Regions from separate parts of the Homo sapiens genome. Here all the other regions are reported to be linked to region 1. Evidence: microRNA targets listed by miRTarBase, many of them from high-throughput screens and not tested one by one. Region 1 holds a microRNA gene; each other region holds the end of a gene's coding sequence.
Evidence for each region. The annotated mature microRNA hsa-miR-3937 reads ACAGGCGGCUGUAGCAAUGGGGG and lies in region 1 at 3,848-3,870, shown strand. An mRNA with a match to its seed (bases 2 to 7 or 8) in the 3' UTR can be bound and repressed. Matches are read on the target gene's strand: a 7mer-m8 pairs with bases 2 to 8, a 7mer-A1 pairs with bases 2 to 7 and ends in A, and an 8mer does both.

Region 2: miRTarBase lists YKT6 as a target of hsa-miR-3937. Seed matches in the 3' UTR shown: 8mer at 4,956-4,963.
Region 3: miRTarBase lists ZNF532 as a target of hsa-miR-3937. Seed matches in the 3' UTR shown: 7mer-m8 at 4,915-4,921.
Region 4: miRTarBase lists PCSK4 as a target of hsa-miR-3937. Seed matches in the 3' UTR shown: 7mer-m8 at 6,191-6,197.

The regions. Positions count from the first base shown.
Region 1 is chrX:39,657,429-39,665,648 of GRCh38, forward strand. MIR3937 (microRNA 3937) reads left to right here and starts at 3,788; the gene lies at 3,788-3,893.
Region 2 is chr7:44,209,997-44,218,216 of GRCh38, reverse strand. YKT6 (YKT6 vesicular SNARE protein) reads right to left here. Exons shown (of 7, transcript NM_006555.4): 6 at 7,093-7,194; 7 at 3,923-5,970. The coding sequence ends at 5,935. CAMK2B (calcium/calmodulin dependent protein kinase II beta) reads left to right here. Exons shown (of 24, transcript NM_001220.5): 24 at 1-1,063. Among named protein-coding and RNA genes, the nearest start is that of YKT6, 13 kb to the right of the region's middle. RefSeq lists enhancers at 1-203, 204-751, 3,161-4,076.
Region 3 is chr18:58,982,236-58,990,455 of GRCh38, reverse strand. It overlaps ZNF532 (zinc finger protein 532), which reads right to left. Exons shown (of 10, transcript NM_001375912.1): 10 at 3,976-6,484. The coding sequence ends at 5,990. Among named protein-coding and RNA genes, the nearest start is that of ZNF532, 120 kb to the right of the region's middle. RefSeq lists an enhancer at 5,647-6,846.
Region 4 is chr19:1,475,533-1,482,353 of GRCh38, forward strand. PCSK4 (proprotein convertase subtilisin/kexin type 4) reads right to left here. Exons shown (of 15, transcript NM_017573.5): 14 at 6,821; 15 at 5,896-6,675. The coding sequence ends at 6,227. C19orf25 (chromosome 19 open reading frame 25) reads right to left here and starts at 3,683. Exons shown (of 3, transcript NM_152482.3): 1 at 3,631-3,683; 2 at 3,242-3,373. The coding sequence starts at 3,371. RefSeq lists enhancers at 2,868-3,368, 3,730-3,849, 6,692-6,821 and a silencer at 3,460-3,509.

The DNA.
Region 1 (8,220 bases):
GGGCCACTTATTACCTAAGGTAACACCTAAATGTCAAAAGGCAAGGACGGAGCCAGAGAGCAAAGCTTGCCTGTGAATACAAATGGGAACAGGCTTTCAAAATAAAGCTGAGGTTCAGGTTCCAATACTCCAAATGCCAATCAAAAGACTCATTTATTTTTTAAATATGTGGGTGAGAGTTGAGAATTACATCTGAAAGGCCACTATCCTGGAATAAGCATAGAATCATCCTGTAGATTTCTGAATATGCTTGTCTGCCTCAGCTTTGGCTTAGTGAGTTGGGCTGTGTGTGTGTGTGTGTGTGTGTGTGTGTGTGTGTGTGTGTGTGTGTGTTTTAGAATAACATGAGGAGGAGGCATTGCTAATTGAAGTTTTCATAAACGAGCATCTATTTGTGATTTTTTTTTTCCAAAATAAAAATTCGGGTGAAAGAAAAAAGAAATGCTCAGACCTGGCCCTGAAAATATCTATCAAAAGTGGATCTAGGGAGTGGAGATAGAATATTTGTAATTAAACCCTTGAGTGGTAATTACAAGGTGGTTGGGCGCGCTGGCTCACTACTGTAATCCCAGCACTTTGGGAGGCCAAGGCGGGTGGATCATGAGGTCAGGAGATGGAGACCATCCTGGCCAACATGGTGAAACCCTGTCTCTACTAAAAATACAAAAACTTAGCTGGGCCTGGTGGCGCGTGCCTGGAATCCCAGCTACTCAGGAGGCTGAGGCATGAGAATCACTTGAACCCAGGAGGTGGAGGTTGCATTGAGTCGAGATCGTGCCACTGCACTCCAGCCTGGCGATAGAGGGAAAGTCCGTCTCAAAAAGAACAACAAAAAAAAGAGGTTGGGGGGATGAATTTTAGGTCTAAAATTTTGCCATAAGTGGAACAATCATTGATGACAGTGATGAACTTTTATGTCAACACTTTGAGGAAGGGGTCAAACCCAGAAGGCTTTCTGGAGACAGCCTCCCTGCTAATAAAAGTTAGGATGCTTTGGTTTAAGAAGTCTCTGATTTCTGTTAGTGAAGTTCTGGTGATGCCTTTAGTAGCTAGTGGCAGAATTTCCTCCTAACACCCGGCAGTTGAGGGGTGGTCTCTAACTAGGGCAGCTTACAAAGCAGATGACCTTGTTCTCAAGTGGGTAAGTTCAGCTCACTGCCAAGGAAAACTCTCACTGTCACCATGATCACCCTGCTATACCAAACAGCCACTCTGAAAGCCAGTTATGGGTAGAAGTCCTGCTCAGGGCTCAGGAGAGCAAAGCCTCTCTCCTTCCTGGCTGGGCGCCATTTTGTTTCTCCCGGGGAGAAACTCAGAACAAAGGCAAGAACAGAGCTGAAGAGAACCAGGGGCAGACCCTGCCAACAGAAGATAGTTTCATTAAAAAAAAAAATAGGGACAGCCTTGTTCTTTGCTGTAGGCCATGGTTATTGCTGTTTGGGTTTTGCTTTTGCTTGTGGTAAGTAGATTATTGCAGAGAACAGAATAATTCAACCTTCTGCTCTGCCTTTGAAAAGTTCTTATAGAGAAGTGTCCCCAGGCTGAAATAAAAAATGAGTCCCAGCAGGCCGGGCGCGCGGTGGCTCACGCCTGTAAGCCCAGCACTTTGGGAGGCCGAGGCGGGCGGATCACCTAAAGTTGGGAGTTCGAGACCAGCCTGACCATCATGGAGAAACCCCGTCTCTACTAAACATACAAAATTAGCTGGGCGTGATGGCACATGCCTGTATTCCCAGCTACTTGGGAAGGGTGAAGCAGGAGAATCACTTGAACCCGGGAGGCAGAGGTTGTGGTGAGCCGAGATCACGCCATTGCACTCCAGCCTGGGCAACAAGAGCGCAACTCCATCTCGGGGGGGAAAAAGGGTCCCAGCCCTGAATGACATTGAGTCTTTGGAATGTATTTAGATTGCCTTTTTGGTAAGTTCCTTTCTCTAATTTTGTAAAAGTGCCATGTGCATTCAAAAAGAATATGTAATCTGTTGGTTGAATGTCAGATTCTATTCATATCCGCTAGTTAAAGTTTATTAATTGTGTGGTGCAAATCTTCAATAGCTTTATTTTTTGTCTCCTTTATTCATCAGTTTCAGAGGCAGGAATCTTAACATCTCCACCTACACTTCCTGGTTTATCTATTTTATTCTCTAGTTCTGTCCATTGTTGTTTTAAATACTTGAGGTTGTGTTGATAATTGTATAGAATGTAAATTCTAATGAAGATAAGTATTTCTGTCTGTTTTGGTCTCTGCTATCTCCTTCAAACCTAGAGCAATGCCTAGAATATTATAGGCATTCAATATATTTTACTGGCCGGGTGCAGTGGCTCACGCCTGTAATCCCAGCGCTTTGGAGGCTGAGGCAGGCAAATCCCTTGAGCTCAAAAGTTGGAGACCAGCCTGGACAACATGGCAAAACCCCATCTCTACAAAAAATACAACAAAAAGAAATTAGCTGGGTGTGGTGGTGCACACCTGTAGTCCCAGCTCCTCAGGAGGCTGAGGTGGGAGAATGGCTTGAGCCCAGGAGGCATAGGTTGCAGTGAGCTGAGATGGCGCCACCGCACTCCAACCTGGGTGACAGAGTGAGTCTCTGTCTCAAATATATCTACATGAATAAATGTGCTTTCATAATTGTTATATATTCTAGAACTATTATTCCTTTTCTCCGTATGTATGATTCCCCTTTGTCCTTTATGATATCTGTAGTTTTTAATGCTGTTTTGTCTGATATTAAAATTGCTGCCCCAGCTTTATTTAATTTATATTTCCTGATATATCTTTTTCCATTCATTTAATTTCAGCTATTCTGTATTCCTTAGTTTTAAGAATACAAAATAGATCAAGGACATGGTGGTTCATGCCTGTAATCCCAGCAATTTTGAGAGGCCTAGGTAGGAGGATTCCTTGAGCCCAGGAGTTTGAGATCAGTATAGACAATGTAGCGAGACCCCATCTCTACAAAAAAATATTAGCCAGATGTGGTGGTGTGTGCCTGTAGACACAGCTACTTGGGAAGCTGAGGTGGGAGGATAACTTGAGCCTGGGAAGTACAGTGAGGCTTTGAGGGTACAGTGAGCCGTGATTGCACCATTGCACTCCAGCCTGCCCAACAGAGCAAAAAATAATAATAATATAAAATAGCTGAAAGTAGACAATAGCAGTCTGGGTCCTGATAGGTGAGTTTGGCTCACTTATATTTGTTGTAACTACCATTAGGAATTCATTTTGCCATCTTATTTCCCATTTTCTACTAACTGTAATTTCTTTTTGTTTTCTTTTTTTCAGACTATTGACAATATCAAATGTCTCTCTGCTAGTTTATAAGCTACAAATTCTAAGTTTATTCTTCTGGTGATTACCTATACCGTCAATCAATTTGTTAAACTTATCAATACCTATACTGTGGCAGCTCGTATTTTCCAAAGATGGTCCCAGCAATATCCCCCGTGTCAATACTATTCTATGTCCCACAATCGTATTCTACAATGGCATATTGACACTCCTCCCATCCAGACAGAGTTAGGGGTGGAGGGTCTATATCCTCTGCCTTAACTCTGGGCAGACTTGTGATTTGAGTGTAACTTGAATGCATTGTAAGTGACACTCAATGACTTCCAAGGCTAGGTCCAAAAAGGCGACACAACTTCTACCTTGCTTGTTGGATCATTGGTGCTGGAGCCCTGAACCACCATTTTTAAAGTCCAACTATCCTGAGGCTGCCATGCTATAAATAGCCCAAATAGCCCACGTAGAGAGGCCAATTAGAGAGGCCCTGAGACCGTGTGAAGAGAGAAGAATGCCCAACCAGCCCTCAGTTGCTACAGTTCCCTGTTGTTTCAGCTCGACAACAACAGGCGGCTGTAGCAATGGGGGGCTGGATGGGCATCTCAATGTGCTTCTCCCACATTGCTTCAGCCACAGTCTAATTGTAACCACATGAGAGACTCCAAGCCAGAACCACTCAGTTAAGCCCTTCCAGAATTCCTGACCCACAGAAATCATGAGAGATAATAAAATGATTGTGGTTATTTTAAGCCACTAAATTTTAGAGTAATTTTTATATGGACATAACAACTGAAATAGATACATTTGCCTTAGAACAAGAAAAGTACTATATAGCATGTTCTAGCATCCTTCTCGTTTCTACCCACACTGCTACTGTGTTGATGTCCCTAGAATTTTGCTCTGGATTGATATGAATGTACTTGGTAGAATGGTGTCTGTTACCTTTTTGTTTATTTACTTATCTTTTAGCAACAGGGTGTCACTCTGTCACCCAGGTTGGAGTGCAGTGGCAAGATTATACCTTACTGCAACCTCAAACTCCTGAGCTCAAGCAATCCTCCCACCTCAGCCTCCTGAGTAGCTGGGACCACAGGCACAGGCCACCACGCCAGACTAGTTTTTTGTTGTTTTGTTTTGTTTTGTTGTTTGTAGAGACAAGGTCTCCCTATGTTGCCCAAGCTGATCTTGAACTCCTGAGCTCAAGCAATCCTCCTGCCTCAGTCTCCCAAAGTGCTGGGATTACAGGCATAAGCCCCCACTCCCAGCTCACTTTTACCTTTTTATAGAGCAATATGCATACTAAGTTATGAAATCTATCCTGCTGAGGATTCTGAATCTATGTATCATAAATTCTGAAAAATTCCTAGCTATTATGTCATTGAACATTTCTTCTCCCACATTGTCTTTATGCTTTCCCTCTGGAGCTCCAATTAGTTATATATGAGAATTTTTTATTCTATTCTCCATATCCTTTCACCTCCCTTTTCTTTGTTTCTCTGTGCTGCATTCTGGGTAATTCTTTGACATCACTCTCTGGTTCAATAATTTCTGTTTAACTTATATACTGAGATTTTTTATTTCAATGACTCTGTGTGTGTGTGTGTGTGTGTGTGTGTGTGTGTGTGTGTGTGTGTGTGTTTTGTTTTTTGACATTTCTTTTTTTTGTTTTGTTTTGTTTTGAGACAGAGTCTTGCTCTGCTGCCCAGCTTGAAGTGTAGTGGTGCAATCACATCTCATTGCAGCCTCAAGCTCCTGGGCTCAAGCTGTCCTCTTGCCTCAGCTTTCTAAGTAGCTAGGACTACAGACTCACACTACCACACTCAGCTAATTTATTTATTTATTTATTTATTTATTTATTTATTTATTTATTTATTGTAGAGACAGGGTCTTGCTATGTTGCCCACACTTGTCTCAAACTTCTGGCTTCAAGCAGTCTTCCCATCTCAGCTTCCCAACGCTCCAGGAATATAGGTGTGAGCCACCATGCCCAACCTCAGTGACTATATTTTTTTATTTCTAGAAGTTCAATTTAGTTTCTTTTAAAAATATACATGCATGTTCCTTTTCATAGTGTCTGTTTTTTCCTTTATGTTTTCATTGTTTAAAAACATAAGCTTTTAATCATCTTAAACATGCTAATTATGGGCCAGGCATGGTGGCTCACACCTATAATCCCAACACTCTGGGAAGCCAAGGCGGGTGGATTGCTTGAGCCCAGGAGTTCAAGACCAACCTGGGCAACAAAAGGAGACCCCCATCTCTACAAAAAAAATTTTTAAAAATGAGGCAGGAGGATTGCTTGAGCTGGGGGAGTCGAGCCTGCAGTGAGCCATGATTGAGCCACTGCACTCCACCCTGGGTGACAGTGAGCCCCTGCCTCAAAAAAAAAAAAAAAAAAAAGCAAATTTTATGGTCTCTAATAGATTGTTTCATTATCTGAAGTTCTTGAGTGTCTAATCCTGCTGTCTCTTGCTCATAGTGAAATCTTTTTTCAACTGTTTTATATTTTTGAATTGTGAGCTCATCATAAACACGGCTTTATGTGTAGGAATTTTGTGAGGCCTGATTAATGGGGTCTCCTGTGAAGTTTCGTTTTTGTTTTTGCCAAGCTGTCCAGAGGTTTCACTATCATTTTTATAATAATTTATGGCTGGGCACGGTGGCTCACACCTGTAATCCCAGCACTTTGGGAGGCCAAGGCGGGTGGATCACGAGGTCAGGAGTTCAAGACCAGCCTGGCCAAGATGGCGAAACCCTGTCTCTACTAAAAATACAAAAATTAGCTGGGCATGGTGGTGGGTGCCTGTAATCCCAGCTACTCGGGAAGCTGAGGCAGAGAATTACTTGAACCTGGGAGGCAGAGGTTGCAGTGAGCCGAGATTGTGCCACTGCACTCCAGCCTGGGCGACAGAGCAAGACTCTGTCTCAAAAATAAATAAATAAATAAAATAAAATTTCTGAGCTTGGGGCTCCAGCACCACATAAGGAATATATATTTAATTCCAAACCCTCATAAGATATAGTTCAAAAATTTCTCAGGAGACATTTTTTTTTCCCACTTGGAGCCTAGACCATGACAGACAAACCCCTCTGGGTCAATGGGCAGATTTTTTTCTAATCTACCCTCACACAGAGGTTTCCACTTTTACAGAATGTATGTATCACATGTCCAACTTTTTTGCCTTACAGGGACCCAAAGCATCAACTCTTTGTCACCCCCCCACCCACCCCTCCCACGACCTCAAGTGGACATTAAATGGTCTAAGGACCTAGAGTACAGAATCATTGTCTCTCCCCATGTGTCCCCACCCTAAAACAGTCACATAATCATTCACAAGCTCACTGCCCTAGTTTTCAGTACCTTTTTCATTCACAGCCCGTCAATTTCCTGTGTGCTCATCTATTCATTCAAATAAATATTCGTTTATTTCTAGATAACTGAGGAAAATGGGTTTTCAGGTTATCTTGATCACAGTATTTCCAGAACTAGAAGCAAAAATGTATTTATATAAGCAAATATGAAATCCACCAGTTTCTGAGATTTCTGGCCGTGATACTGATATTCTTTACTTAAGTATCTCTGACAGATAAATGTACTGGTTTACATTTGTGCACATATTTTTAAACATTGCAATCATAAGGGCTAGCCACTGCCCTAAGTTTCACTATATGCGATAGTAAAACTCCTGGCAGAATGTTTGGCCTGCTGAATGGAATTGTTCCTTCATAATTAGAACTCTGTCTTAGTATCTCTTCTGTTGGTCTCTACCTAAAAATACTCTTGCCTTTATATTTCAGTAGTACTATTAAGTCATTAACCAGAGAGGTAATTCTGAGTATGAGAAAAACATATATGGGCTTTGGATTCAGGAAGACATGGCTCTGTTTTGCTTCCCAGCTGGGTGTCCTTGGGCAATTAGTTCTATCTGAGCCTCAATTTCCCCATCTGTAAACTGAGGATGATGATACCTATTTTAACTGTATATTAGTCAGGGTTCTGCAGAAAGACAGAACCAAAAGGATACATAGATAGATAGACAGACAGATAGATACGTAGATAGATAGATAGATAGATAGATAGATAGATAGATAGATAGATAAGAAGATATTTATTAGGGGAATTGGCTCACACAATTATGGAGGAAGCAAAATCGCATGATAGGCCATCTGCAAGCTGGAGAACAAGGGAGGCTAGTAACATGGCTCAGTCCAAGTCCAAAGGCCTGAGAACTAGGGAAGCTGATGGTATAACTCTCAGTCCAAGGCCTAAGGCCTGAATAGGGGAGGCCACTGGTGCAAGTCCTGGGGTCCAAAGGTCAGAGAGCCTGGAGTTCTTATGTCCAAGGGTAGAAGAAGAAGGGTGTTTCCAATTCCAGGAGAGAGATGGGGCAAATTCACCTTTCCTCTGCCTTTTTATTCCATCTGGGTCCCCAGCTGATTGGATGGTGCCTGTCCATGTTGAGGACAGATCTTTCCCACTCAGTTCATCGTTCACATGCCCATCTCCTCCAGAAACACCCTCATAGAAACACTCAAAAATAGTGCCTTACCAGCTTTGTAAGTATCTCTGAAAGTAGTTAGGTTGACACCAAAAATTAACCATCACAAAAGGGTTGAGGTTAGAATTAGAAGATAATGTCTATAAAGTACCCTTCAAGAAATAGGTTCTTCAAGTATTATTTAATCCACTTTTGAGTTCTTTTCTTTTAACTACATAAGTATGCCACTTTGACATCATCCACAATGACTAAGAGGGTATTCCTTCAATTATGAGTTCCTTTATCTCACTGGTCACCACTTATTTCATTTTCTTAACATTAACAAAATTCCCCTTTTTATATGTTTTTGGTAATTTAAGGAGCAGTCGTGTTAACTTGAATTGCCTTAACAAAACCTCTATACCCAATAAATGTGCCTTCTTTCAGCCGTAAAGTTGAT
Region 2 (8,220 bases), not on the chromosome of region 1:
GAGCAAAAGCTACAGTGGGAGCCAGCCTAGGGCACATGGGAGGCGTGAGGGCAGTGCTGCCCGTGCAGTGTCAGGTGTGCCAGTGCCTTGGCGGGCTGCAGTGCGTGTGAGGGCACCTTCTAGGTGGGCCAGGGATGCAGCTATGGAGATAAGGCGGGCTGGGGACAGAAACAGGTGGGCACAGGGCCCAGGACACCAGCGGATGGAGGGCAGGGTCTAGCCCTGTGCTCCTGAGCGTCGGCTGCCTGGGTTCGAGGCGGTGGGTCCCCGGCCCCTTGTGATGGTGTGTACCATGGGGGAGCTCGGGGACAGGGCAAGCCCGAGCATGGTGGGGCTGCAGGGTGGGTCTGAAGCCAGGTTGGGTGGGGGTGGTCACAAGCCCTGACTGCAGAGGGTCAGGGGCTCCTGCCCCAGTGCCTGCCCACTTTCAATTCACATTGTTTTCAACAAGGATTTTCTTTATCTTCCCCTACAAATCAAGCCAAGGGAGGGGCACAGAATGGGGAACAGGACACAGGATCCTAAACTCCAAGGGGACTGTCCACCGATGAACACTCAGAGTGGACACCATCTTCCGTCCACGCTGTGCCCAGGACAGCTGTCCCCATCCATGAACACAGGGTAAACATCTGCCGGGCTCCGCACCAGTGGCTCCCTGGGCCATGGGACAGCGGCAGGGCTCACCACGGACAGCACGTGGCCCAGCAGCCGGCCACCCTGGCGTCCTGGGGCCTCCTCCCCTCCTCTCCCTCTCACCTTGTCACCTCCACGGAGCTGCCTGTCTGGGATAATTTGGGGATTTTTTTTCTGGGGGATAATTCTTTTGCATGACCCCTAAAGAGCAAGCCACACCGGTCTGCTAGCTAGGTGTCCGCGGTGTGGTGGTGGCGGCCGCTGGCCAGCGCTGCAAGGGGTCGGCTGCCCACGGTGCTGGCTGGCCTCCCCTCCTCTCTCTTTTTGCTGAGTTTCATTGTCTTTTCTTTCTGAGCCTTGTAAGTGTACAAAAATTATTCTTATTTTGTTCTGTCTCGGGAAACTGCAAATAAAAGAAAAACAGGACAAACTGCTTCAAGTGCAGCTGGGTGCTTTAGCTGGAATCCTGCCGACCTCCTGCGCCAAAATACAGACTCAAGCCCGGTCCCTGGCCAAGACCCTACTTGGGCCCCTCCTCCAATGAAAGGTAGTGCTATGGGAGCCCTGAGCTGGCCCTGACAGTCCTGAGCCCCTCTAGGGTGAACGGCTCACCCCAGGTAGGGCACTAGTCATAGATCATAGCTCTACCAGCTGTCTCCACCTCTTCCTCTGGTCCTCTGAAGTCTTCTGGGCCCAGCGCTGTCCACCCTGAATGCTGGAACTGAAACTGGATCCCAGCCCCCAACACCCCTGACCTCTCCATTCACCCCCGGTGGCCGCTAAGGATGTGGCCAGGGCAGCCTCTGGGCAGGAAGGAGCCCCAGGACCAAGACCTCTGGCTGTCCTGCTGTTTCCTTCCGCCCCTGCTACATGTATTGGCTATTCTGGATGCTGAGGACACACAGTGACCACAGAGCCGGGCTCCACCCCAGTGGATTATGCAGACAGATGGCACGCAGGCCTGTGTGGACATCAGCCTCGGGCACCAGACATAGGCAAGGCGCAAGGTGATACAGTAGGCAGCCACCATGGGGGCCAGGAGGCTCCAGCAGAGGCCACACAACCAGCCCAGAATCCAGGACAGAGAGCTGGAATGGAGACAGGGAAGCCAGATACCAGGCCAGACTGGCCAGGTGCTACAGGCCTGTGGGCCAGGCCAGGCTTGGGGACTTCGTCCTGGGTGTGAAGGAGACAGGCACCCCTGAGGCCTTCCCTCTGCATCTCCAGCCCAAGCTAAGCGCAAACTCTTAGGTTGGAGTAAGGAGTAACCCCCTGCCAAGTTTCTCCTGTCCTCAGGCTCCACCCACCACCTATGCTGCCTGGCCCCATGGGGCACACGCTCAGGCCCAGCCTGGGAAAGCAACTGCACCTGCCTGTGCTATGCTGGCCCTTCTCAGCCTCAATGCCCTCCTCCCTCCCCGACGCACCCTCGTGGCCCCCGCTGGGCCCCCTGATGCACCCTCATGTCTCCATGGCAACCTGCTCAGAGTGTGGCCCTGCCCTTGGCTCCCCTCCACACCTGTGTCCCAGGCAGTGCCACGGCACTTTCCTAAACAGAAGGATGGGCTTCAAAACAGTCCCAGACACTAAACACACCTGCATTTTGGGTCCAAGTAACTTCTGACAAGACGAGTGCCCCTACACACTCTCAGTCCTATCCACTATGGGCAAGGAGCCTGAAGGATCCCCCAGAACTGGCTAAAGCCCTCAGTCTCCTCCTCCACCCTGAGCACCTTCACGCGGCAGAGTGGCCCTGGATGTCAGCTTCTTGCTCCCCATGGTCTGCACCTGGACAGGTGCTCTCAGGTGTGTGGGTGGGCAGGTGGCAGGTCCCAAGAGCCAGGTGCAAAGAATCTAGGCCAGTGCCCACGAGTGCTGCAGTGTCTGTCCCCAGCATGGTATCTAGGGCTCCACTTGCCTATCAGCTGTAATCGGAGGAGGCTTTCCAGGCCAGGCCTCCCCCAGGAAGGCTGCAGGCACTGCGGATCGTGCGCCCTCACATGCATTATTCCTGAGGCCCTTCTGCAGATGCCATCAGGGCAGCAACTCTGATGAGGTATTAGGGCACAGCACACAGGGCTAAGCCACCCTGTACTGGGCCAAGCGCTACAGGCAAAAAGGACACCACCGACGGGCATTTCATTCATCGCTTTTATTTTTATATATTTTTGAGAGGGAGCCTCACTCTGTCGCCCAGGCTGGAGTGCAGTGGCGCGATCTTGGCTCACTGCAACTTCTCCCTCCTGGGTTCAAGTGATTCTCCTGCCTCAGCCTCCCGAGTAGCTGAGATTACAGGTGCCCGCCACCATGCCCAGCTAACTTTTGTATTTTAGTAGACATGGGGTTTCACCATGTTGGTCAGGCTGGTCTCGAACTCCCGACCTCAAATGATCTGCCTACCTCAGCCTCCCAAAGTGCTGGGATTACAGGCATGAGCCACTGCACCCGGCCCATTCATCACTTTTAAATAGCACCCTCTGAACAAAGCTCCCTGGGCCACATGACCCTAAGGGTTACCCCATCCCACCCCAACCCAGGTCTGGCAGGTCCTCAGAACAGGAAAAGCTGAGCACTGCCCAAGGCTGCTTGCTGGGCCAGTCAGAGAGGTCTCTGCCTTCCAGGATCAGAAGTACAGGCTGAAAGCAGCCTTGGGCCCGCCTCCCTGGGAGGCTACAGAGGCTTCAGAGGGTTCCCTGAACTCAAAACCAGATGTGAGACTTGAATTTGACTTACCCCTGGTTCACCTCCCAACCAAAGCAGGGGTCAGCTTTGGCTCCTCCAGGAACCAGGAAGCTTCCAGGTACCCTGTGGAGCCCCCTCTGCTCCTGAAAAGTTGCCACCTGTGCTTGGTGGGATGCCAGGTGGTCTCAGATTGACCCTGGGGTCAGCGGTGAGGGACAGGAAGCCTACAGCGGGATCAGGATGGGGATGGGGCCTCCTGTCCCATGGCTCTGCAGCTATGAGGCAGCTTTCCTAGGGTGGGTCTCCTGGCTGCAGCTAAGACCAGGCAACAGGATTCAGCAATGACAGGGCTTCTTCTACTCCAGGGCTCCCTCACCTGGTTAACAGCAAAAAAGAAAATACAGTTCCTGCTAGCAAGGTCTATAGAAAGGAGGTGAAGGAGTCAGGCCTGCAGCTACCTCTCCTGGACAGGAGCTGGTCAGGATAACTTGGACCCTTGCATGCGGCAGGCCCACAGGCACACAGCATGAGGCCACTCTCTCCCCCGGGGGAAGGGCTTGGTGAAGAAAGGATTCCCCTGAAGCACAAAGAAAGCACAGGACCACTGTGAAATTTCAAGACAACTTTATCCAGACAGGCGCCTCTCAAATAGAACACAGGGAAGTTAGGCAGCAGTTACTAAAATACAGTCTCGCCAAATGATTTACAACAGAACACAACAGGAGCAGGGGATCTGTGGGTGGGGCTGGGCTGGGCCCTCTATCTCACAGGGCCTGAGTCAAGCCAGCCCGCCCTGCAAGGCAGGGGCTGACCTGCAAGCGGAGATCTCACTTCCTCTTACCCCAAATTCATACCTCCATTTTCCCCGCCCCCATCTCTCCCCAGGGTCCTCAAGTGGGAAAGGGAGAGGTAGCATCCCTCGGATCCAGGCCCACTCCACTCCGTCTCCGGCACCAGTGGGCAGGCTGAGTCTGGGCCTCAAGGGGCCCTGGGCTTAGGGTATCTATGGCAGTAGGAAAATGACATGGACAGGCTCTTCAGGGGTAGGCTAAAGTCCTCTGGCCAGCAGTACCCAGAGAAAATGGGCAGCAGCAGGTAAACCAGCCAGGAGGTGGAGTCCTCTGAACCCACAGCAGACCCCACCCTCCTGCCCAGCCCCTGCCCACATTGGGGGTCAGGACCACTGAGACTCTGGTCAGGACAGTGGGTGCTCTCAGCAGTGTGGCAAGCTCAGAGCAGAGCTCCCAAGGACCATACCACACTGGTTCAAAACCCATAGGTGACACCATCCCAGCAGAAGCTTCCATGGGTGCTGGATCCCAGGGCTGCATCCTGAGCACAGGTGGGCAGACTGGAACATAACACTAGGACCCAAGGGATCCAGAACATTTTAGGCCCATCTCCTGGGCTGCTCCAGCCTGTTGCCATGACTTGGGCAGTGAGTGGGCCTCCTGCCAGGTGGCAGGGCACAGCTTAGACCAAACCCTTGGCCTCCCCCCTCTGCAGCTACCTCTGACCAAGAAGGAACTAGCAAGCCTATGCTGGCAAGACCATAGGTGGGGTGCTGGGAATCCTCGGGGCCGGCTGGCACCCACTCCTGGTGCTCAAGGGAGAGACCCACTTGTTCAGATGCATAGGCCTCAGGCGGTTCAAGGCAGTCTTAGAGCCACAGAGTCAAATAAAAATCAATTTTGAGAGACCACAGCACCTGCTGCTTTGATCGTGATGTTCAAGGCAAGTTGCAAGTCAAGGCAAGTGTCCCAGAGGCCCTGGGCAGCTGAGTGCACCTGTGTTTGATCTTCCCCTGATGATGGACACTCCCAGCTGACCATCCAAACACCAGGAAAACATCCCCCTTTCCTGGGCTCAGTTCCTAGTCTACTTGCTGGTACGAACCCAACCCACACACTCCCCGCCCACAATGCAGCTCCTTCCAAATCCTCCCACAAGCCACCTTTGTGGGACTTGGAAGCTGCTTAGGATGGGCCCTGCCCTCTGCGGGAAGCCAATCCTAGCAGAAAGGTAAGCTAAACAACAGTCTCAGAATCTGAGACCCAGTGACTGTTCCCCCCGCCCCAGGCCTTGGGCCTGAAGTGGGGGCCTGCCTGTGGCCTCTGTGGTGGGCTCACTCCCACCCCCAACAGTGGCCCCAGGAGAGGCTTTCCCAAGAGTCTTCAAACTCCACCCACCCCAGCCCTAGCATCAGGGACTCCCCACCCCCCACTGGAGTGTTAATATCATTAATGTACAAATAAGATCCAAAGATATACCAAAGATCGAGAAACAGCTGGCTCCGACCTCCCTCCCACAGAGCCTTCCCAGGGTTAGCTGAAAAAGAGCCCTTTGGCATCTACAGAAGCCAGTCGGAGTTTATGGTTTCATTTGCCCAAAAATACACCTTTGGGGACCTCAAATTCTTTCCAAGAATCACTACCACACATATGAATTTGAACATTCGCCACCCTTCCACCATCCATTTCTCGCAGGAACTTCAAAATAAAAATGGCCAGTCTGCCCCCACTCTGGCTCCTCGTCTATGGCTGTCTCTTCTTTTCCAGGGGCTGCAGTTCTGATGTGAATGATGGTGCCATTCCAGCATTGGGCCTCTGGCAGGCTGCATCACATGATGGCACAGCATGAGTTTTGTTTCCGGGCCTTGGAAAAAAACAAAGAGGAGCTGAGAAGGAGGACTGACGAAGTAAGGGAAGCCCCAATCCTGGCAGGCGTGGCAGAGGGAGCTCCACAGGACACAGCCAGGCAGAGAAACTAGCACTAGAACAGGGTGGGGGTGGAGGCCTTGAGGGAAGCTGTCCACAAGCAATTCCCATCACCAAGCACAAGGCGGGCCCCGGCTTCCAAAACTAGTCTGGGATCCTTTTTCCTTTCTTTTCTCACACCCCATTAATGCTATCAAAAAGTGAGTAAAATTCCTACAGTTAGGCCAGGTACAAACAAAGGACCAATAATACAAATGGGATTGGCAGAATATCTTAACTTTGCCCCACTCCTGTCTTCACACAATGCTATCTGACCACCACGGTGGTGTTTCTTCCTAGAAGATGGTCCTGAGGACAACAGATGTGGTTCCCACTTGGGATGTGGTTTGTGGGGACCACTGTTGCCACCTTCTCTCTTGCTTTCTGGTCACAGACTATCTTCCTAATCCCACCTAGCCATCTCCCTCCAATGTGCACATGAAAGCAAATGTGTGTGGACAGACCAAGTAAATTTGTCCCTATGACTATCCAACCATGGGCCAACAGTGCCATCTCCACATAGGAAGACATGAGCACTGACCTGAGAGAAAGCGGCAGTCAGCAGCACCCATCCTTGTCAATTAAATATTTTCTGTCAAAGGGAAATTAAAAGCTTAAGAACCTCTTCAGGAAGGCTGAATTGCTTGCATCTTAAAGACTTATGTCTACTCAGCAGAAAGAGGAATAAGATTCAACAGTAAATCTCTGGTGATCAGAACTTGAACCAGCCTTCCTGGACTGGGAGTAGGAGTTCAGAAATCAGCCAGAGCAGCAGAGGGCAGAGCAGAGGCAGGAGTGGAACAAGGCCTCGGCCCGCATCGACTCCAACGGCGCCCAAGTGAACTGCCTCCAACCACCTGGGCCTGAGGCGCTCACCTTAGGCTCTTGCCGCACAAGGAATCATCCACCATGATTCAACAGTCTAAGAAAGACCCGTTCATAGTGGAGAGTGCCAGAAGCAGCAAGCTGCGACTGCTCTCTAGAGAGAACACCCAGGAGGCAGCAGGTGCTGGGTACTCACAGTTTTATAGAAGGCTTTAGACTGTGTTCCCAGCACCTCGGATTTGGACACCAAGTCATCTAGCTTCTCACCTCGCTCTAACAGAGACTCCATGGTGTTGTGCTGGACAAAAAAGAAAAGAGAATCCAGCTCTGTTCAGTACGTGCCCTGACATGAGCCCCTCATATTTCAGTCATGGGGGAAAGTGCCTTACCTGGGTTCCTCTCCAACACACACAAACTTCACCTCTAGGTGTCGAGACTCGGTCCAAGAATAGTTACTGTCCAAGTGGATGGAACAGAACCTGGTGACATTCCCGTGAAATCTAGAAGATCTAACTGGGATGTAGCAGACTTCCCAAAAAGCTGTCCCCAGCACAGGCTTAGATAACCAGCACTCCAGGAAAACTCATATATATATATACACACACATTTATATATACATTTGTGTGTGTGTGTGTGTGTGCACGCACATGTGCGTGTGCATGGAGCTTTGGAAAAAAGAGTAGCTGGGCACTATATGATTGTACTGGGTTGGAGAGTGACCCACACCGCACCCCCCAACCCCAACCGCATCCCAGAAATTAACATCCCCAGAATCTCTGAATGTGACCATATTTAGAAATAGGGTCTTGGCAGATGTAACTAGTTAGGAAGAGGTAATACTGGATTAGGGTGGCATCTAATTCCATGACTGATGTCCTGGTAAGAAACGGAAACACACACACAGAAGGTCACGTGACGGCAGAGGCAGAGCCTGAAGTGATGCACCTCTAATCCAAGGAATGCCAAGGATGGCCAGCAGCCACCAGAGGCTGGAGAGAGGCCTGGGACAGACACTCAGAGCCCCAAAAGACACCAGCCAGGCCCACAGAGCTATCTGTTAAAAGCAAATATTTGAGGGTTTCTGTTGACAGCAGCCACAGGAAACAAAAGGCGGTGGGAAATGGCTATTGAGCACTTGATGTGAGGCAAGTCCAAACTGAGCAGCGCTCTGAGTACAGACACACCAGATTTCAGATGCAAACTCACACATGCTTCATTAGTAAGTTTTATACTGAAAAAAAAACAAGTTTTATACCGATTACATGTTGGAAAAATTGTATTTGGATATACTGCGTTAAGTAAAATATATAATTAAATTAAATTC
Region 3 (8,220 bases), not on the chromosome of region 1:
TACTCAAACCATGTGAACTGAGGCTGGGCTGTTCAGAATGGGTTGATTGGGGGTAACAGTGACTATAGAATGACAACTGGCTACTCCAGAAACTTCTAGTAGCATGAAGAGAGACTTTTCACAGAAATATGGGCATTTCTTGCTATAAATTTCCCTCTTGGAATGGCTTCTGCTGCATCCCATAGGTGTTTGGTACATAGTTGCTATTTGTCTCAAGATTTTTTTGATTTTCTTTTTTATTTCTTCTTTGACCCATGTTGTTTAATTTCTACTTATTTGTGAATTTTCCAAGATTTCTCCTGTTACTGATTTCAAGTTTCACACCATTGTGGTCAGAAAAGATACTTAAGGTAATTTTGATCCCCTGAAATTTGTTTAGATTTGTATTGCAGCCAAACATATGATCCATCCTGGAGAAAGTTCTGTGTGTACTTGAGAAAAATGTGTATCCTGTTGCTGTTGGATGGGATGTTCTGTATATGTCTGTCAGGTCATAAAGTGTAGTTCAAGTCCAATGTTTCCTTATTAATTTTCTGTCTGGATGGTAATCCATTATTGAAAGTGGGGTATTGATGTCCCCTACTATTATTGTATTATAGTTTCTATCTCCCTTCAGATCTATTAATATTTGCTTTATATATTTAGGTGCTTCATTCAATGTTGGATACATTTATAATTATTGTATCCTCTTGATGAATTGACCCTTTCATTGTTATATAATGTCCTTTGTCTCTTTTATTGCTTCTGACTTAAAGTTGCTTTGTCTGATGTAGGTATAGCTACCCTCTGCTCTCTTCTGGTTCCATTTGCATACAGTATCTTCTCATTCCTTCATTTTCAGTCTATGTGCATCCTTAAGAGAGTTGAGTCTCTTGTAGGCAGCATACAGTCGGGTACTTAGGTCTTTTTTTTAATCCATTCAGCCACTCTGTCCTCATATTAGAAAATTTAACCCATTTACATTCAAAGTAACTACTGACAGGTGAGAACTTATTACTGCCATTTTGTAATTTGTTTTCTGGTTGTTGGGGATGTATTTTGTTTCTCCCTGTCTTGCTGGATGGTTTGTGGTTTGACTGCTGTAGTGGGATGTTATGAATAATCCTTTCTATTTATGTTCTGTGCATCTACTATAGATTGTTTTCTGGTTATCATGATCTTTATAAAGAAAGACATTCACATTGTCATATTCCAAAGGCTTACAGCTAACTCGGTAAGGGTGTGAGATTCATAACTGAGAAAAGAAAAACAAAAATTGTCAAAGAAAACAAGAAGTTTCAAGGATGCATTTAAGCAGAGTGAGTTACACCTCTTGAGTAGGAGCCAAGTTTTTAAGGTAATTAAGGGTAGGTTCTTTGTTTAGAAGATGTATGTTAAAATTAAGAGCTACAATCTGGAATCCTTACAGCATCTGATATTTGCAAAGCGTGTGTGTGTGCGTGTGTGTGCATGCGTGTGTGTGTAAATTGCACAAATAGCATCCTACATTTGGCACATTACTTTTTATTTTCAGACTATCCTTTGGGATAGATGAAGGGTTCCTCTGAGTCATATTTTATAAATTTCTTGGCTGCCCAAAAATTTCAAGAGGAAATTTCACTGTTGGTCAAAGATCCTAGGATGGAAACTCACTAGCCTGCTGACACTGGTGAGGCATGCCCACCAGAGCTTCAGGGTAGAACAGCTGTTCTTTGGACTACTTGCTGTGGTAGGAGTAAGGAATTTGCAGAAAACGTGCTTGGGAGGAAGGAAGTGGTCTTTGCCATGCAGTGTAAGCCTACATTTTCCTTTTTCTCATTTTGCAAGTAACGTTTTGCTGGCATTCTTTTGTATGCATTTGTTACTCAGCTATTGATATATCACCCAAACACATAAAAACAAAAGCATAATTTGTATGTATACCTGAAACTTAAGATCATCTTCCTGGTAATCAACTCTTAATTTTTACATATATATAAAGTATGTATTATATATGTATTATATATTTTATGTATGTATTATATATTTTATATATGTATTATATATTACATATGTATTATATATATATGTACTATATATTATATATATATAAAATTTTCTTTTTTGGAGATAGAGCCTTGCTCTGTCATCCAGGCTGAAGTGCAGTGGCACCATCTCAGCTCACTGCAACCTCTGCCTCCTGGGTTTAAGCCTCCTGAGTAGCTGGGACTAGAGGTGGGTGCCACCATGCCTGGCTCATTTGCATTTTCAGTAGAGACAGGATTTCACCATGTTGGGCAGGCTGGTCTCGAACTCCTGATCTCAGGTGATCCACCTGCCTTGGCCTCCCAAAGTGCTGGGATTATAGGTGTGAGCCACCATTCCCGGCCTACTTCCATATTTTTAAGTAACCTAAACCTTGAGAAAAAATGTAAGGAATCACATAAGCTTGAACTTTCAGATCAGACTTTCTCTGTATTCCACATTAAGAAACCCTCTGGAAACTGTTTCTGAAATGCTACTTACAACCGAAGCCTCTTTCCAAGCCTACTCCCACCACCCTAGGTCAAGTGTTCCTACTGTGTTGGCACCATAGCTATGCCAATTTAAACGTTATTCCTGTGATGTCCAAATATTTTCAGCCTCCTGGGCACGTGGGAGGATTGCACTTCCCAGCCTCCTTGTGACTAGGTGGCTCCGTATGACTGGTTTTGGCCAGTGACTTGTGAGAAGTGGCATCTGTCACTTCTGGGCCTCAGCATTTCATTGCATTTTCCCTCTGCCACAGCAACTGGCAACTTTTTGATAGTGGGGTAATGGGACAAGGAGATACGGAGCCATGCCTCCAGCCAACCCACAGTGGACACTGAATGTGAACAAGAAATGTCTTGTGATAAGCTATTTAGGCTTAAGGTCATAACCACAGCATAACCCGACCTATCCTGATTGATATACTCCATCCTAAACACTGCCACCAATTAATCTGGTCCTATCACTCCCCTGTCCAAATGACTATCTCTATCAATACAAACCCCTTCATTCTATCATTCAAGGTTTTTTTGTTGTTGTTGTTTTTGAGATGGAGTTTTGTTCTTGTTGCCCAGGCTGGAGTGCAGTGGCACCATCTCCCCTCACTGCAACCTCCGCCTCCCAGGTTCAAGTGATTCTCCTGCCTCAGTCTTGGAGTAGCTGGGATTACAGGCACCTGCCACTGCGCCCAGCTGATTTTTTATATTTTTAATAGAGATGAGGTTTCACTATGTTGGCCAGGCTGGTTGTGAACTCCTGGCCTCACGTGAACCACCCACCTCGGCCTCCCAAAATATGGGGATTACAGGCGTGAGCCACCGTACCCAGCCTCATTCAAGGGTTTTTACAACTTGGCCTAAGCCTTTGCTTCCAGGCTTAGCTCTCACTTCTGCACTCAAGAGTACATGGACTTCCTAAGAATTAAGCATACCTCATGTTATCCTCCTCCTCAAATGCCCACACCCAGCATCTACAACTAATGAAGAATGGGCAGAATTTATGTCCCAGCATGATTTTTGTTGAGCATTCACTGTTGATCCAAGTATTAATGTCTTTCATTAATGGCTAAGATTTTCTACACTGACCTTCCCAGTTCTCTCTAGTCCCCCTTTCTGGAACTTCCATTAAACTGAAGCTGGATCTTCTCATTTTGTCCTTGATTCCTAACCTCTCTTTCGTATTGGAAACATCACTTTATCTCTGTGCTGAGGCTAATTTTCTCAAGGGCTATCTTCCAGTTTACCAATTTCCTCTTCAGCTGAACAATCCAGGTTTTCCCCCAGGGTTACAGCACTGTGTAGTGTTTTTCTAGAATCTAGATTTTGGTTTCTTCATTTTGGACCTCTGGGCATTTTTTAAAATTTTCTTGTATTCTCACCTATGCATTTACCAGGTGTTAATTTTATATTAAGCATCTCTGGGTATTTAAGAGTAGAAAGACTTTCAGGTTATTTATAAAGCCATAGTGCCAAAAACAAAAATTCTGTATCATGTTTTGTACATACTTTTTATTTGTTGAATAAATGAATATTTGTCAATATGTACATAACCACATAGAGCGAGCATTAGATTTAGAGAGCAAAATATTTGGGTTCTAATATGCAAAGCCACTTACCAGCTATGAGGGCTTCGGCAAAGAACTGAATCTGAGCTCAGCTCCCTCAACTGTAAAACTAGGTTATTCGGACCTATGTGGCCTACCACACAGGCTTATTGCAAGGTTCAAATGCAGAAACATATGAAAGTGCTATTATGAATACAACTTAGAGCAATACAAACAAAACAAGGAACAGCAATGGAATTTCAAGCTGAAATTCACACCCTCGGATTGTACCCATGTACTGATGGAGTCAACAAGAAAGTGACAAAATAGCTGATTACTAATGAGAACGAATATGCCATTCTTCTGAGTGGGAAGAATTCTGCAACACCCTGTAGCTTGTCGCTGCAATTAATTACTTCCCAAACTTCACAAAGATGTCAGAGACCCACCATCAATAATTCTCTCACAGAAGCACAAGGGCCAAATGTCCCACGTTTATTTACATATGAAATGTGTTTCATACAGTTATGATGGATGGAGTGCATAACACCTGACAGCAGCAAGACCTTTTGAGGAACCGAACATTGACTACAGTATATCATGCAAGTATCTATATATACACAAAAGAATTCCTTTTCTTAAAAAAAAAAAAAAAAAAGGTACAAAACATGTTCAGGGATAAATACAAGATACAAAATGCAAAAGAAAACACAAAACAAAACCAAAAAATAGAACTCTCTCAGAGAACTATAAACGGAAGGGACAGAAGAGTACCTCTGCTGCATTTTAATAAAGCAGAACTACCGACGTTAAATATACTTCTTGAAATGGCTGAACTAAACCCGGGTGGCTCAGTGCTTAAGGTAACGGCCAATTGCAATACACAGGCGGCTGCATTGATAAGTCGGTGGTTGAAGTTGTGCATCCCGACTCTAAGTACCATAACGTTTGGCAGTAGCACCCAGAACAGGAAACGCCAACTCTTTTGACAGCAAAGGGTTAAGTCAACTGATTTTTTTCTGTCAAGAGCCAGAGAAATACTTGATATTCTTAGCTGTGTTTCTGTAATAGTTAGTTAATAAATTACATGACAAAAACCTGACTATATAAATCTATTGGTCTAACTACGTATTTGTAACTTTTATAGTAGTCCAGCCCTTTCGTTACTTTCCCTCCTTGTGCTCTTAAAGCCAGCCTTGCAGATCTGCCGAGAAAACAAATCCCATTTTTTTCTTTAGAATAGCCTTCCCCATTCCTCAAAATGGAACTGAGGAAATCAGCATTCCTTATTAGATTCCTAGCTTCAGTTTTTATCCACGGCTGGGAAAGGAGCGACCTGCAAGACTGCTTTAAACACCCTTCGGCATGGCCTGAAGACAAAGGCACGTCCACACTGGAGTGCAGTTGTCTCAAATGTGAACTCACTCCCTCAGGGCAGGCACATCGAGGAAGTGCTAAGACACTTAAAAGTTCCTAGTGTTTTTGAGACCCACAATTACTTACAATTTATGTAGTGAATTCTAAAAATTAAAAACACTAAAAAAGGCATTATTTTAGCCTGTAATTAGTTAACCCATTCAAAATCCAAACATACAAAATGGTTTATTTGAATTCAGGAACTGCCCCTGTTACTAAGAACTCTGTTTTAAAGAAACAGTACAAAAAGAAAAATTCTAACCCAAAACAACTCAAATGGTTTTCCACTAAATACTGATACAAACATGTAACAAAGAGTATAAAAAGTTATTCATTTAAATATATACAAACTCTTTTAAACTCAAATACTGTTTTAATACTTATCGAGGATATATACGACGAGGTGAAGGAAGGTACATTGAAAGAGAATATATTGCAACAGCCTAGACAGTACTGTTAACTCTATTATACTGCAAACTTTGTAACAAAAATGTCTTTTTTATTCCAATGTGGACAGGGATTTTCCTCATGGAGCATCTGTGGCTATTTCTCGGCTGAGCTCATCCTTTTGGATTTGATGAAGGCCATGCCGTGTGTCCGCATGTGAGTATTTAAGGCAGCTTCAGTTTCAAAAGTTTTTGCGCACACTTTGCACTTTCTGTCTGACACGGCGCCATCAGGGGATTCATCCTCGTGGCTGGGTTTGTTCTCCTGTTGGTTATCTTCCCCAGCCCCATTTTGCTTGGACACTGGCTGAGGTTCCTTTAACTTGTGTACGATGAAGAGGTGCCTGGACAGAGAGACGTGAGACGTGTAGCAGAGGCCACACTCCCGGCACTGGTAGGAAGAACCATCCGATTTGTGCTGAGGGATGTGTTCGTGGAATTGCAGCAGGTTTTCGGTGGTGAAGCCACACACGGCACACTTGTGAACCTTAAAAACATTGATTTTCAGCTTTTTCAGTGGTTGAGTGATTGCTCCTCGGGGAGGCCTGAACTCCAGAACTGGTTCTTCCAACTTCCGCTTGGGACTGGGGACCTTTCAGGGAAAGAAAGCAAATGACACGACTGAAAACCATCCTTCACGGTGGTTGATAAATGATCGGTTCTCTTACTTTAGAGCTGCCAGGAAAACTTGTGCTGAACGCTTTGGGATTTAGGGGCTTTAAAGCTGTGTCTGCCACCCCACCCGGAGGCCCATGCCTTTCTTCCACTCCACAGAGAAACCTAGTAGCTGTTAGCAGGCATTGCTCTGCCAGTGGGGCACAACAGTGGACAAATGAGCTCCTAGCTTCCTGAAATTTGTGGCAGCGGAGTTAGATGAACAGAAACAAATGAGAAAATATGCAGTATGTCAGACCCAGGACAGCCAAGCAGGGTGGGATGAGGGCCATGGGAAGCAAGGGGGGGGTATATGTGTGGCTGCTAGGTGATGTGGTACGGTCAGGGACAGCCTGGTGACAGGTGACATTTGAAAAGAGACCTGACGCAGTGTCGGGAAAGCAGTCCAGGCATAGGAAGCTGTGAGTGCCAAGGCCCAAGGTGGGAACAGGCCTGTGAGTGGGCAACAGAAGAGGGGCTAGAGCCAGTAGGAAGGAGTGCTCAGGGAGACTGCAGGAGGTGAACTGTAACGCCCCTTGTGGGAGAGAGTGTCAGGATTTTGCTTTTAGACTGAGAGCCTCTGGAAGCTTTCCCCACCCTTTCCTGCCTCCTCACCTTCACACCATTTCCCCTACTGCGTCTGCTTCCAGGGCTCTAAATCCCACTCTGAATCCCCTCCCCAAGCCAACGTGCCCCTCCTCTCCGCACTCTGTGCCCCAGCTTTTCTGCTCTGTTCATGTGCACCTTCACACGTGGCCATGACCTGAAGCTACCTTTGCACACACTTTCTTTTTTTTTAAGACGGAGTCTCGCGCTATTGCCCAGGCTGGAGTGCAATGGCATGATCTCGGCTCACTACAGCCTCGGCCTCCCGGGTTCAAGCGATTCTCCTGTCTCAGCCTCCCAAGTAGCTGGGACTATACGTGTGCACCACGATGTCCAGCTAATTTTTGTATTTTTAGTAGAGACAGGGTTTCACCATATTGGCCAGGCTGGTCTCGAACTCCTGACCTCGTGACTGCCTGCCTTGGCCTCCCAAAGTGCTGGGATTACAGGTGTGAGCCACCACGCCTTGGCTTCACACATATTCTTTAACTCACCACCAGGAGCACTTGAAGTATTGCATTTTAATGCCACATCAGTCTGACTTATATTCTGAGGAGGTTTTACTCGATGATTAACTCCTTGAAAGCACATACAAGCTTTTACCTGGGTACATTCCAGATCTAGCATAGCACCGAAGACAGGAGGGCTTTTTAAGTATCTGCTAACTTTTTTTGGGGGGGTGGAGACAGAGTCTCGTTCTATTGCCTAGACTAAAGTGCAGTGGCGTGATCTTGGCACACTGCAACCTCTGCTTCCCAGGTTCCAGCAATTCTCCTGCCTCAGCCTCCTGAGTAGCTGGAGATTACAGGTGTGCACCACCACGCCTGGCTAATTTTTGTACTTTTAGTAGAGACGGGGTTTCACCACGTTGGCCAGGCTGGTCTCGAACTCCTAGCCTCAAGTGATCTGCCCGCCTCAGCTTCCCAAAGTGCTGGGATTACAGGCATGAGCCACTGTGTCCGGCCTAAACTATTTCTTTAAACTTTTCTCTCAAAAAAACAAAAAAAGTCCTGCTCTTGTCCCCCAGGTTTGGGTGCAATGGCTTTATCTCGGCTTACTGCAACCTCT
Region 4 (6,821 bases), not on the chromosome of region 1:
ACAAAAATTAGCTGGGCGTGGTAGCACGCATCTGTGGTCCCTACTTCTCTGGAGGCAGAGGCAGGAGGATCGCTTGAGACTGGGAGGCCGAGGCTGCAATAAGCTATGATCGTGCCACGGTACTCCAGCCTGGGTGACAGAATGAGACCCTGTCTCAAAAATAAATAAAAACAAAAATCAAGTAATGGAGGCTTCCTCGTCCATCAGCTGGGAGAGGCACAGTGGCTGGGTGGCAGGAGGGGCTTCCAGCTCTAGGCTACCCGCCTTAGCAAAGCGTGTGACCAGGGGGATCGGGTCACAGAAAGAGCTCAAGCCTCGCCAGCAGTGGCCCTCCTGGGGGCGGGGCTTCCATTCCTGCAAAAGCCGTGGCACCCACCGGGATGGACTCCACTGAGCTGGCCTGGCTCTCATTCCTGCTGTCTCTGGAAGCCAGAGACGCAACAAGCCCGCCACCGAAAACCTCTCCAGGGGCCGTGCAACCTCCTGGAGCACACACTTAGGGAGGCAGGGGTGGCGAAGGTGAGAGGTGGGCATTGACGTCCTGGTGACTCCCACATTCAGCAGAAACTACGTATGGCTCCCTGCTCCCCCACGTATGCAAGCCCAGTGCAGCAGGGCTGAAGCAGCACCGACTTCAGGGTCACTCAGAGAAGCGTCAGGGGCCCCTCGGCTCTGGCCTGCCCCTCGGCAGTGTGGTCTCCCACGGACGAAGGCTCCACGTGCCGCACGGGTCTGGGCTGATCAAATCACCTCTGTCATCACCTGCTTTAGCAACAGGGTGGGAAAGGCCGGGCAGTGCCTGGATGAAGGCACAGGAGGCCCCCTACCTTCTGTGAGCGCCCCCCGTCCCCCGCACAGCGTGCCTCAGTTTCGCCACACTCAACGGCCATGGACCTGAGCCCATGAAGCTCAAACCACGGCCCCAGCACCCTCAGGTGACCGAACTGCATGCTGGGAATAAAACCAACTCATGCACCTTGACCAGTACCGGCCCACAGAACCTTCCAGATGATGCGCACACCTCCCACCGATGCTGGTCCACACCAGCCACCAGCCATGTGTGGCTCCTGGGCACTTGAAATATGTCTAAAGGGAAAACACAACTCAATTTTTCTCTTTTTTTCTTTTTCAGAGACAGGGTCTCACTCTGTCACTCAGGCTGGAGACTCCAACTCCTGGGCGCAAGCAACCCTCCTGCCTCAGCCTCCTGAGTAGCTAAGACCACAGGTGCATGCCACCACACCCAGCTAGTTTGTGTATTTTTGGTAGATATAGGTTTTGCTATGCTGCCAAGGCTGGTCTTGAACTCCTGGCCTCAAGTCATCCTCCTGCCTCAGCCTCCCAAAGTCCTGGGATTACAGGCATGAGCCACTGCACCTGGCCCCAGAATTTTCTAATATTACTTTTTAAAAATGTTCCCTTAGAAATTCACAGTTTCTATCATTCCACATGGCTCATTTTCTTTTTTCTTTTTTTTTTTTGTTTGAGATAGAGTCTTGCTCTGTCACCCAGGCTGGAGTACAGTGGCACGATCTCAGCTCACTGCAACCTCCGCCTCCTGGGTTCAAGCAATTCTCCTGCCTCAGCCTCCCAAGTAGCAGGGATTACAGGCATGCGCCACCATGCCCAGCTAATGTTTTTGTATTCTCAGTAGAGACGGGGTTTCACCATGTTGGCCAGGGTGGCCTTGAACTCCTGACCTCAAATGATCCGCCCACCTCAGCCACCCAAAGTGCTGGGATTACAGGTGTGAGCCACCGCACCTGGCCGATTCATCTTCATTTGTTTCCCGCCAGCCCCAGAACAGCCTGGGGCAGACATTCTTGTTTCTTTTGTTCACTTGTCCATTAGCAGTGCTCTAAGCGCAGAGCCCAGCACACAGGAAGTGCTCAAGAAAAGGATTGTTGAATGAATGAATGAGCCTCATCCAGAACACAAAATTCACCCAACTGCACTGCTGAATCCTTTGGTCTCTGACTAGCTTCCACCTCGTAAATCAGGAGTGGACAAGCTTTCCTGCCAAAGGCTGGAGTCTCTGCTCCCACTACTCAACTCTGCCCTTCTGGTGTGAGAGCAGCCACTAACCGTATGTGAATCATTTGGCTGTGTGCCGTAAACCTTTACTTACCAACACTGAAATCTGAATTTCATACCTCTTTCAGGTGTCAGAAATGTTCTTTTTCACCCACCCCCATTTAAAAATGTGAAGTCCATTCATAGCTCCCAGACCTTAAAAAAACAGCCAGGGGCAGGGTTTGGGGGGCCCTAGCTTACCACCTCTGTTTTACTTTATTTATTTCTATTTATTAATTATTATTATAATTATTGAAACAGAGTCTCACTGTGGTCCAGGCTGGAGTGCAGTTGCGTGATCTCAGCTCACTGCAACCTCCGACTCCCAGGTTCAAGTGATTCTCCTGCCTCAGTCTCCTGAGTGGCTGGGATTACAGGCCCATGCCACCACACCCGGCTAATTTTTGTATTTTTAGTAGAGACAAGGTTCCACCATGTTGGCCAGGCTGGTGTCCAACCTCTGACCTCAAGTGATCCACCCACCTCGGCCTCCCAAAGTGCTGGGATTATAGGCGTGAGCCACCGCACCGGCCACTTATTTATTTTTGAGACACAGTCTGGCTGTGTTGCCTAGGCTGTATCCTCCCACTTTAGCCTCCAAGAAGCTGGGGCTACAAGTGTCCACCACCACACCCAGTAATTTTTTTTTTTTTTTGAGACAGTCTCGCACTGTCACCTGGGCTGGAGTGCAGTGGTGCGATCTCGGCTCACTGCAAACTCTGCATCCCGGGTTCAAGCGATTCTCCTGCCTCAGCCTCCCGAGTAGCTGAGATTACAGGCGCCTGCCACTATGCCCAGCTAACTCTGTTTTGTTTTTGTTTTTGTTTTTGTTTTGTTTTTTCATTTTTAGCAGAGACGGGGTTTCACCATGTTGGCCAGGCTGGTCTCGAACTCCTGGGCTCAAGCGATCCTCCCGCCTCATCCTCCGAAAGTGCTGGGCTTACAGGCCTGAACCACAGCGCCCGGCCTCCACCCCTGTCAGAAGAACCCTCTGAAAATCGGTCCCACTCTACGGAGGAGTAGAGGGAGACTCGGAGAGGATACGGACCGTGCCCATGTTGCGGGGGTTCCCAGGGCGTGGGGTCAGGAGTTAGGGGTGTGCTTCTCTCCCGTCCCCTTGCTGCCGGGGTCTCAGGTCCGCTTTTCCCCGGGACCGGGCTCCCCCTACCTTCCGGGGCCAGGATGGTGAACACTGGATCCTCTGCCGGCGCACCCCGCACATCCTCCAGGATCTGCTCCACCGTGGGGGGCGCTGGGCGGGTGGGCAGCAGCACGCGCTTCTTTGCCTTGGAGCCCATCTCTGAAGGCGGGGAAGGGGGCGCTGACCGGGGCGTCCACCTCTCCGCCCTTGCCCGGGCTGCTCCTCCCGCCCAGCGAACTCGTACGCACCCGTCGCGGTCCCGCTCCCGGGGAAGCCCGCCCTGTCCCGCCCCTCTGAGCTCGCCCCAGGCCCTGACCCTCCCTCCGCCCAAAAACACGGTGGCCAAGGCTTCAGGGTCTGGCTCAACCTCTGCCTCAGTTTCCCCGCGGTCACCCCAGTCGCCGGCCTCTTCCCACCTGGGCGCGGGACCCGAAAGCCCAGCGTCGACGACGCAGCCACTTCCGATTCCGGTCGGAGCACCGCCCCGTCCCCGAACACGTGACACACACTTCCGGCCTCCTCTCCCGCCGGCCCGCCGCTCATCGCGGGGCTCCGCCCCGTCTTAAAGGGATAGTGCCCTTGAGACTCGGATCTCAGCCTCTCAGGCGAACCCGAACCTGGACGCGCTACGATGAGAGCGAGTTCGAGTCCAGGCTCCACTGGCTGGGTAGAAAAGCATCCGAGGCTCGTCTTTCTGAAAAGGGGAACACGGCACTAGGGGACACGCCACCCATGTGGCTGACGGGAGCACAAAATTGCTGTCCACCTAAGGGAGCCTGGTGGTGCATGAGCACTCGGCGGCCGGAACACAGCGGGGGCGGGGCGGTCGCGGCGCCTCCACTTCCGGCCAAGGCGGGTCCTCCCACCTCGGGGACGGTGCTGGAGGTCACCTTTTCCTCTCCGCTGATGCCTGGGAAGGCAGAAAGAGCAGAGGGCCCTTTTCCTCTCTCAGGGGCTTTATTGAGATGCAGTTTACATACCATAAAGTTCTCCTGTTTATTTCGTTTTGTTTTGTTTTTTTAGAGACAGAGTCTCACTGTGTCGCCCAGGCCGGAGTGCAGTGGCGTGATCTCAGCTCACTGCAACCTCCGCCTCCCGAGTTCAAGCAATTCTCCTGCCTCAGCCTCCCGAGTAGCTGGGACTACAGGCGCCCGCCACCACGTCCGTCAAAATTTTTTTTTGTATTTTAGTAGAGATGGGGCTTCACTGTGTTGCCCAGGCTGGTGTCAAACTCCTGAGCTCAGGCAATCCGCCCGCCTCAGCCTCCCAAAGTGCTGGGATTACGGGCGTGAGCCACCGCGCCCGGCCAAATTCGCCTGTTTAAACTGTAAATTCAGCCTGGGCGCGGTGGCTCATGCCTGTAATCCCAGCACTTTGGGAGGCCGAGGCGGGCAGATCACTTGAGGCCAGTTTGAGACCAGCCTGGCCAACATGGTGAGACCCCGTCTCTACTAAAAATACAAAAATTAGGCTGGGTGTGTTGGCTCACGCCTGTAATCCCAGCGCTTTGGGAGGCCGAGGTGGGTGGATCACGAGGTCAGGAGATCAAGACCATCCTGGCTAACATGGTGAAACCCTGTCTCTACTAAAAATACAAAAAGAAAAACAAAATTAACCAGGCATGGTGGCGGTTGCCTGTAGTCCCAGCTACTCAGGAGGCTGGGGCAGGAGAATGGCATGAACCCGAGAGGCAGAGCTTGCAGTGAGCCGAGATCGTGCCACTGCACTCCAGCCTGGGCGACAGAGCAAGACTCTGTCTCAAAAAAAAAAATATTGTTGAGAGAGAAGGAAGGAAGGAAGGGACAGAGAGAGGGAAAAGGAAAGAAAGAGAAAGAAAGGAAAGAAGGAAGGAGAAGAAAAAGGAAGGAAGGAGAGAGAGAAAGAAAAAAAAGAAAAAGGAAATAAAGAGAAGAAAGTAAAGAAGAAAAGGGAGAAAAGAAAGGAAAGGAAGGAAAGAGAAGGAAGAACGGAAGAAAGGAAGGCGAGAGAGAAAGAAAAAGAAAAGAAAGAGGAAGAAAGAAAAAGGAAAGAGAAAGAAGGAAAGAAAGAAAGAAAAGGAAAGGAAGGAAGGGGCCAGGTGCGGTGGCTCAAGCCTGTAATCCCAGCACTTTGGGAGGCCGAGGTGGGCGAATCACGAGGTCAGGAGATCGAGACCATCCTGGCCAACATGGTGAAACCCATCTCTACTAAAAAAGGAAGGAAAGAGAAGGAAGAAAGGAAGGAAAGAAGGAAGGAAGTAAAGAAAAGGAAGGAAGGGAGGGAGGGAGGAAAGGGCCAGGCACAGTGGCTCACGCCTGTAATCCCAGCACTTTGGGAGGCCAAGGAGGGAAGATTGCTTGAGGCCAGGGTTCAAGGCTGCAGTGAGCTACAATCGCACCACTGTACTCTAGCCTAGTCAACGTAGGGAGACCCTGTCTCAAAACAAACAAGAAAAAAAACAAAGGAATCACCGCAGGAGAGGATTCTGGGCCATGGTGAGCCATGTTCTGGGGCTGGACATTACTGCTGACCCCCGGCCATTCCCTGCTGTTCCCACTGCCTGGGGTCCCTGGGCCTGGGCGGACTCTTTCTCCGTGGCCGGCTGCATTCTCCATGGACTGATGTCCGGGGACCCCAAGCAGAAACCACCTGAGCCCTGGGGCCTCGGGCCCACCCTGCTCCAGAGGAGGCCACAGACTGAGCACCTTCTAAGCAACCTTTATTTGCAAACTCTGAGGTTGGACGCGGTGCCCGAGGCGGACAGTGTCACGTTTCTCTCCCTCCACTTTCCCCTGGCTTTTGGGGTGCTCCAGCCTCTCCCCCCAGCCCACTCCCGCCCAAACCCAAAATGCAGAGGAGACTTCTCTCTCTCTCTCTCCCGCCAGGCTTCGGGGTTCCACGGGGCCCATCCCTGGCAGGCCAGGCGTCGGGTGCTGGTGCTCGCTCCTCTGGGGCCAGCCTGGGGAGGCAGCATGGCAGCAGTGCCTGTCAGGGACCCAGGCGGGGGCAAGGTCGCTTTCTGAGCTGACAACTTCAGGTTCCAGCTGGCAGCCAGACCTGGGGTTTGGTGGGGGTGGCCCTGGCACGGGAGAGCCAGGCGTATAGTGGGAGGTCCATGGACATGCCGCAGAGGACGGGGCCTCCGAGGGTCACGGCCAGGAGGCTCAGCACCATGGCCGAGGCTGGGCAGCGGTGGTGGGGACAGGCGGCAGCTCTAAGCCGGGGGCGGCTGTCGGGGGTGGTGGGTCCCATGCAGGAGCCCTGCTGCTGGTCCAGCGTGGAGGATGGGGGACAGGAGGTGCAGTCCCTCGGGGAGCCGCCGCGGCAGGTGTAGCAGGAGGCATGGCAGCTGGAGCAGACCCTCAGCGCGGGCGCCGCCGTGTGCCCAGGCCCAGCGGTCACCAGCCTTGTGTGGTTGAAGAACCGCGGGGGGCAGTAGGCCAGGCAGAGCTGTCCCAGGATGTAGGCGGGGCCGTCACACGCTGCTCGGGGACACGCACGCAAAGGCCCGTCAGCTTGCCACCCGCAGCCTGTTACTCGCCACCCGCCCGCCTGGGGCCACATGCACGCTGCCCACGGTGGCCGCCACCGCCTCCCAGCAGTGGGCCCTGCCCCGCCGGCACTCACC